2 linked regions of the Homo sapiens genome follow. The protein of the gene in region 2 purifies or fractionates together with the protein of the main gene of each other region. This does not show direct contact. Each region holds a gene or a part of one and is shown on either strand. Other genes may lie near its edges.

The links. Proteins that work in one complex are often made in the same cells at the same time.
Region 1: the proteins of NAA20 (region 2) and SMAD5 fractionate together in Homo sapiens (co-fractionation; one large-scale study listed by BioGRID). This does not show direct contact.

Annotation. Positions count from the first base shown.
Region 1 is NC_000005.10:136,153,297-136,156,949, forward strand, and holds part of SMAD5 (mothers against decapentaplegic homolog 5), read left to right. Parts: intron 1-295; 5' UTR 296-464; coding exon 465-867; intron 868-3,653. UniProt on the Homo sapiens protein: Transcriptional regulator that plays a role in various cellular processes including embryonic development, cell differentiation, angiogenesis and tissue homeostasis.
Region 2 is NC_000020.11:20,020,331-20,023,983, reverse strand, and holds part of NAA20 (N-alpha-acetyltransferase 20), read right to left. Parts: intron 1,529-3,653; coding exon 1,504-1,528; intron 1-1,503. UniProt on the Homo sapiens protein: Catalytic subunit of the NatB complex which catalyzes acetylation of the N-terminal methionine residues of peptides beginning with Met-Asp, Met-Glu, Met-Asn and Met-Gln. Proteins with cell cycle functions are overrepresented in the pool of NatB substrates.

The DNA.
Region 1 (3,653 bases), on a different chromosome or scaffold from region 2:
TTTAGTGGCCTAATCAAAGGGAGTCCAGAAGCTATTTTTGGATAATACATAGGAGGTAGAGCAACCTGGTTTTGCCTCTGGTTATCATTTGACATTGCCAGTGTCTTACTTGTTCATATTATGGGGAAGGAATCGAGTGGTCACAGAACTTTTGGAGAAAATTTATCAATTTTTTGTTTACTTTGTAATGCTTTTCTGTTCTTATTTAATAAAATATGCCTTTCGATTATATTAATTTAAATTTGTATATATTGAATTGATTTAAACTAGGATCCTTTCCCCCTTTCTCTTTCAGGACTTGACCCAATGAAAGAAGCATATGGCACTTGTGAAGATAAATGTTACTCCTCCCTTTTTAATTGGAACTTCTGCTTAGGACCTGTGTATGACGTTTCACCTGTGATCTGTTCTTTCGGTAGCCACTGACTTTGAGTTACAGGAAGGTCTCCGAAGATTTGTGTCAAATGACGTCAATGGCCAGCTTGTTTTCTTTTACTAGTCCAGCAGTAAAGCGATTGTTGGGCTGGAAACAAGGTGATGAGGAGGAGAAATGGGCAGAAAAGGCAGTTGATGCTTTGGTGAAGAAACTAAAAAAGAAAAAGGGTGCCATGGAGGAACTGGAGAAAGCCTTGAGCAGTCCAGGACAGCCGAGTAAATGTGTCACTATTCCCAGATCTTTAGATGGACGCCTGCAGGTTTCTCACAGAAAAGGCTTACCCCATGTTATATATTGTCGTGTTTGGCGCTGGCCGGATTTGCAGAGTCATCATGAGCTAAAGCCGTTGGATATTTGTGAATTTCCTTTTGGATCTAAGCAAAAAGAAGTTTGTATCAACCCATACCACTATAAGAGAGTGGAGAGTCCAGGTAGGTCTTATTCCTGAGAAGAATTTGGAAAAACAAAAACAAAAAACCTCTCTTCCTGATATGCATGTAACTAGATTTAGTAATGAAAAGGTTGTATTAGCTTTGTGTTTCCATCTTAAATATTCTAATCTTGGAAGGGCTATTGGATTTTGAGTTTAGCTTTTTATATGTAGGTGATACAATTCTCAGGTGGCTTACTCTAATTCATTATTCACTGTAAGCACCCATATATCTACTCTGCCTTTTCCTGTGGATGACCTGTCTCTGTTTTATTTAAAGCCTAAGCTCCAAGTGTGTACTATATCCCATTCCTTTTTGTCAAATGAAGAACTTTGTTCCTACAGTTATCATCCTTCTCTCCAGCATTATATTTTCCCTTTCTACCAGAGTATTTCTGATAGCATACAAGCATGCCATGATACTACCCATCCTAAAATAAAACTTAAAAAAAAATTCTGCTTTTCACTTCATTCACATAACCCAACCCCAATCACTGCACTGTTTCCACTGGTCCTTTTAGAGGATTCTCCATTTTTATTATCTTTATGTTTCATTTTTTTCTTGTGACTTCTCTAGTTAGTCTTTCTTTCCTACCATTTAACTTGTCGAGATCACTAGTGACTGCCTTTTTATAGGTCAAGGGGTCATTTTTGAGTCTTATCTTACTGTCCGCTCAACTGCATTTGATACAGTTGATCTCCTTCCATCCTACTCAAAACTTTTTCTGTGTTTGGCCCCTAAGACAGTATGCTATCCTGGTTCTCCTACCTCACTGACTGTTCTTGCCCCTCTTTGCTGGCGTATTCTCCTGTTTTCACAGGAGTCAGTCCATGGACCTTTTCTCCATTTATATTATTTCTTTATGTGCTTTCATGCTGTCACATGTCTTAAGATTGTCTATAAGCTGATGCTCACATTTTGAACTCAAGTCAACTTCTCCCTTGAGTTTTAGATTTGTGTATCCAGTTGCCTACTTGACATTTCCACTTGAATATTTATTTATTAAACATACCAAATGTAATATGTCTAAGCGCAGTTTTTTTTCTCTGGTTTCCCCTATTGAAGTGAATGGCAACAGCATTCATGTAATTGCTAATGCCCTAAACTGCAAGGTCATCTTTTATTCTTCTTACTTAAATCCTATATTTAAAATATGAGCAAATGCTGTTTGCTGCACCTTCAAAATATGTCTTAATAAATATGTCACCTCTCATCATTTGTGACATCACTACTTTAGTACAGTACATCATCATCATCACTCACCTTAAGTAGTGTCCTAATTGGTCTTTCTGCGTCTCTTCTTCCCCTTAACCCATTGTGTTTTCCACACAACAGCCAGAATGATTTTTTAAAAACATACTAAATCATGTCAGTTCCTACTGAAAACACTTTCAAGGCTGTCACACTTAAAGAGATTTCTGTAAGACTCTGTATGACCTATCCTCAGAGTTCTCTGTTCCTTGGACTTGCCATACTCCTGTTTCCAGGCTTTAACTCTTGCTGTCTACTTATTCTCCCCCAGGATCTTTCCATGGCACATTTTCTCATTCCATTCAGTCCTTGCTCAAATATCCGCATCACTAATTGACTCTATATTAGATATTTATTTTGTTTATTGACTGACATGAGCAGAGTCTTCCTCTATTTCATTCATTACTCTATCCTTAGTGCTTAGAATAGTATATTGTTGTCTGGCACTTGGTAGGTGATGCTCAGTAAATTTTTTTTATAATGAATGGTATAAGCTGAGCTGCTAGCTGAGTGCATTAGTCATCTATTGCTGCATGACAGATTGCCACAAACTTAGTGGCTTAGCACAATGCATGTTTATTACCTCACAGTTTCTTTGGGTGAGGAGTCCAGTCACATTTAGCTGGGTCCTTTGCAAGGCGCTGTAATCAAGGTGTTGGTTAGGGCCAAGGTCTTATCAGAAGCTCAATTAGGGAAGGATCTGCTTCCAAGCCCATGTGATTGTTGACAGATTTAGTTGCTTTCACATAGCCTTCTTTATAGGTAGTTCACATTCATGACAGCTTCTTCAAAGCCAGTAAGGAAGAGAGGGTCTTCTGGTAAGAAGGACATTATATTCTTGTGGAATGTAATCATACATACGCTGTCACCTTTGCCATATTCTGTTGGTTAGAAGGAAGTGATAGGTCATACTCATACTCAAGCAGGGAGAATTACCCAATGGTTTGAATACCTGGAGGTGGGAATCACAGTGGTTACCTTAGAGTCTATCTGGGTTTCACGTGGAGATGTGTGGTAAAAAGACTGAAAATAACATTGGATGTGGAGACTAGTAGAAAGGATAGCAGATAGCAGTGATTATGCTGTCTGTGAAAGTTCAACTTAAGAGCTTTAGAGTGTCTTTAGACAGTTGGTATGATATGATTCTCAGTTTCTTACTGAGTCCAAGGAAAGCTGATAGCTGAAGGAACTGATGAAGAAAGGAAGATAAAAGGATTTAATAGAGAAGTATAGGCTGAAAAACTCCCAAGCTTGCTATTTGCTAGGAGGGAGTCTAGGAATTTTATGTATTCCCCTATAGCCAAAGTGTGACTAGTAGTCAGCCAGCCAATAGAAATGTCTTATTTTTTGTATACATTTTTCTCAGCTATGATTCATTCTATAGAAAAGACTGGGGCATAGCTCTGATACTTTTAAATAACGGAAAATTTCATGTCTTACTAGTTCAACTATTGGAAAGAGACTATAGAGACCTCATGTTTCGCCCTGAGCCCAAACTCTTGGGGGAAGGGGCAGATTACCCAGCTAGATTAGCT
Region 2 (3,653 bases):
GGCCTATGGGCCTTATTTTGTCAACCACTGACAAACTGCCTCTATTTCTTCTTATTTTCAGCTTTCAGGAAATGGAATTACTATTTCCAAAGTGCCTTCTGGAAAGATAATAGCAATTTATATTGTCACTAGCAATTTATGAGAATGTTCCTCTCACCTCACCATCATCAGCACTGAGGTTTATCATTTTTTAAAATCTTGGCTGATACATAAAATATGGCATCTCATTTTGGTTTTAGTTTACATGTCTTTTGACTGATGAGACTGAACTCTTAACACGTTCATTAAGCTCCTATATGCCCTCTTTTGATAAATTACCGGTTAGCAGAACCCTCCTACCCACCTACAGTAGATACAGAGCATAACACAGAATCCGAACTTTGTGTTGTAAGCCACTAGAGATGTGGGGTTATCTGTTACAGCAGCATAACCACAGTATCCTATCTTCACATCTTTGCCCCATTTTTCCATTAGGACAATAATAGACACTGTTCATTGTTACCTCAAAGCCTTCACTTTAGTAACAAGTCCCAATTTATAAAGCAGGGCACATTTCTGGACTCTAGATAGGATTCAGTAGACAGGTGAAGCATGAAACAGGTGCTGGTCAATGAGACAGAGCGGGCCTGTGTGGCATTTCCCAAAGGTACTCTCCTTTTTTTTTTTTTTTTGAGACGGAGTCTCGCTCTACATGTAGCCCAGGCTGGAGTGCAGTGGCGCGATCTCGGCTCACTGCAACCTCGGCTCACTGCAACCTCTGCCTCCCGGGTCCTGGTTCAAGCGATTCTCCTGCCTCAGCCTCCTAAGTAGCTGGGATTACGGAGTGAGCCACCACGGCTGGCTAGTTCTTGTATTTTTACTAGAGACGGACGGGGTTTCACCATGTTGGCCAGGCTGGTCTTGAACGCCTGACCTCGTGATCTGCCTGCCTTGGCCCCCCAAAGTGCTGGGAGTACAGGCCCAAAGGTACTCTTAAAAGGGAAGAACACCCTCACCTCCCCCTCTGCTGTTTCTGCTGCCGGAAACATGGCTGTGATGCTGTTTGCTGTGGCAACATCTGGAACAAGGTTACGGCCACCCTGGGAGGGGTAGAGTGCTTAAACTGCAAAGAGCCTGGCTGTTGGTGTCTTCATGGAAGCATCACCTGCCTGGGACTGCTTATCTCCAGACTTTGTTCACACTGGAGACTATGCAGCCACCTTGCTGAAGTCACTGTGCTTTCTGGTGAATACAGCCATGCTGACTCCTGAGGGGCAAGGTTGGCAGGGGAGCTATGATGTTACAGATTTCTACCAAGTCATGATATTAACAGTTTGTCAGCAGATCTAAGACAACTCTTGTTCTCAGTTTCACTTTTTAAAATTGCTTTCAGTGTTGCTTATGATGTTTCCTGACCTACAAGTTTTTAAACTTTTCAGTACTCCTCTGTTTTCCTTTCATTTCTGTTTTCTTTATTCTCAGTAAATCTTCATTCAACTTTTTTTTTTTTGTAAAAAAGGATACAGTTTCTGTAAGTGGATCCAAGTTACTGAAAGAAACAAGAGAAATGTCTCTAGTAAGCAGCGTTTACAATAACCAGTTGAAATAAGCCTGCTAAAGCTAACAGTAATATGCCACAAGGAAAACAAAACATGTTTCATCAACAACTTTAAGGCCAACTTTAGGGCTGAGGCAGATGATTTAATCTACCTAATAGCCATAATAAGCTGTCACAGCCACTATTAAGGTGTTTACATATTTTTTCACTTAACTGCTACTTGCTTCTTTAAAATTCAAGTTAATAAATCTACATCTTGTGTTTTCTAAGTGGCAATAAATTGCTAATGGAACTGGAGACCAACTAGGGATGTATCTCGCAGAGACAGAAGGTCAAACTCGCCCGCTGCAGCATCCAACCCCATGGATCCTCCCCGCCTGTGTCTGGGTCTTCCCTGACAATTGCTCCTTTATTCCACCCTCTAAATGTGGTCACTCCCACCACTCGGTTTTTGCTCCCCACTCCTATTCTACACTCCCACCTCCCTGTCCCCACCATCCCCATTCCTATGTGTTCAATCACGTGTTCTTAGTGGATGCCTCCCAACCTGGCTCCGATGCTGTGGGCAGCTCACCAGCACATCCCAGCACACCATTCCCAAATCTGCATTCTGAAAACCCATCTCCATCCCCTCACTTCCCTAGTCAATTAATGGAGCCACTATTTTGTCAGGTTCAAAACCAGCTACTTTTCAACTGTTCTCTTCTGATTTCTAGTCAAATTCTCCTTTGAGACCCATAACAATGCTAGTCATATCATATTTCTGTAGTCCAGCAGTTCTTAAACTGTTTGGTTTCAGAACTCCTTTACGCTAAAAAGTTACTGAAGACTCCAAAGAACTTTTGTTTATACGCGTAATATCTACTGAGATTTAAAAATTTTAAATATTCACTCAAAAATAATAAATCAATTACACGTTAACACAAATACCTTTACCAAAAAAATCACTATACTTCCGAAAACAAAACAAAACAAAATCCAGTGACAACAATGGCATTGTTTTAACAATTCTGCAACGTCCTGCTTAAAAGACAACGGGATTCTCAAGCATTTGTTATGCTTGCTGCTGAAAGATCACACCTTGGGAAGCTCCACTGTCTACTTGTGAGGGAATGACAGTGGAAAAGATGAAAAACCTTCTTAATACATCATGAAGATAGCTCTAACCTCACACAACACCTGAAACAATCTTGGGGACCCCAAACCCTGGCCCACTCCTTGAGAATCACTGCTCTAATACAGTGCAGGGAGTCACTCCACCACACCTTTCGACGACTGAACTGCTTTATCTCCTCTTGTCTGCCCACCCGCACCCTCACCTCCAGCCCCGCCATCTCAGGGGCTTCCTATTTCATCACTAAGAAGAGAAAACAGGAAGAAGTCTTTGCCAAAGTCCCCCCCCCCCCCCGCCCACCGAACCCACGCACACAGGCATCTGCACCCATATGCTACTTGCTCTCCTGTCAATAGGCACGGAGTGCGGGCGAGAGACCCCCTCAGTACTCGGGACCCTCCTCCTGCAATTCTCTTTCCCTCCTGCATCTGCATCTTCAATTTCTCTTTCCTGGAAGAAATGTACAAATATGATGTGCACTGAGCCATCAGCTCCTCTTGAACAGCTTCCCACTCCTGGGACAGCCTGAAATGCTGTCTTCACTCAGCTTCTGAGACCATGGGGTTCTCCTCTCACCTCACTGAGCCACACGGTCTCCTTTACTTGAACACTTGATGCCCTAAGGCGCCATCTTACAAACTCTTAGCCTTTTTTTCTACACTTGTGCTGACCCCCAAATTTCCATCTTTAGCTCAGACCTAATCTTGAGACGCCCATGCCCAGATGCCTTCCTGGCCCCTCCACCTGGGTTTCTTGGTGCACTTGGCAGAGAAGTTCAGGTCTTATGATGGCCTCTCCAGGCCCTGCCCTTCTAACTCTCTGCTGTTATCCCCTTACCCTCCCATGCTCACTCTGTACCAGCCATGCGGCCTGCCTCCTATTTGAAACAGGGGTGTCTTCACTTACTGTTCCCTCTATCTGGAAGCTCCCCTGGCCCCCAGTGTTCATGTAACTCATTCCTAACTTCCCCAGGTCTTTCTTCAAGGGCAGTCTCCCTGAACC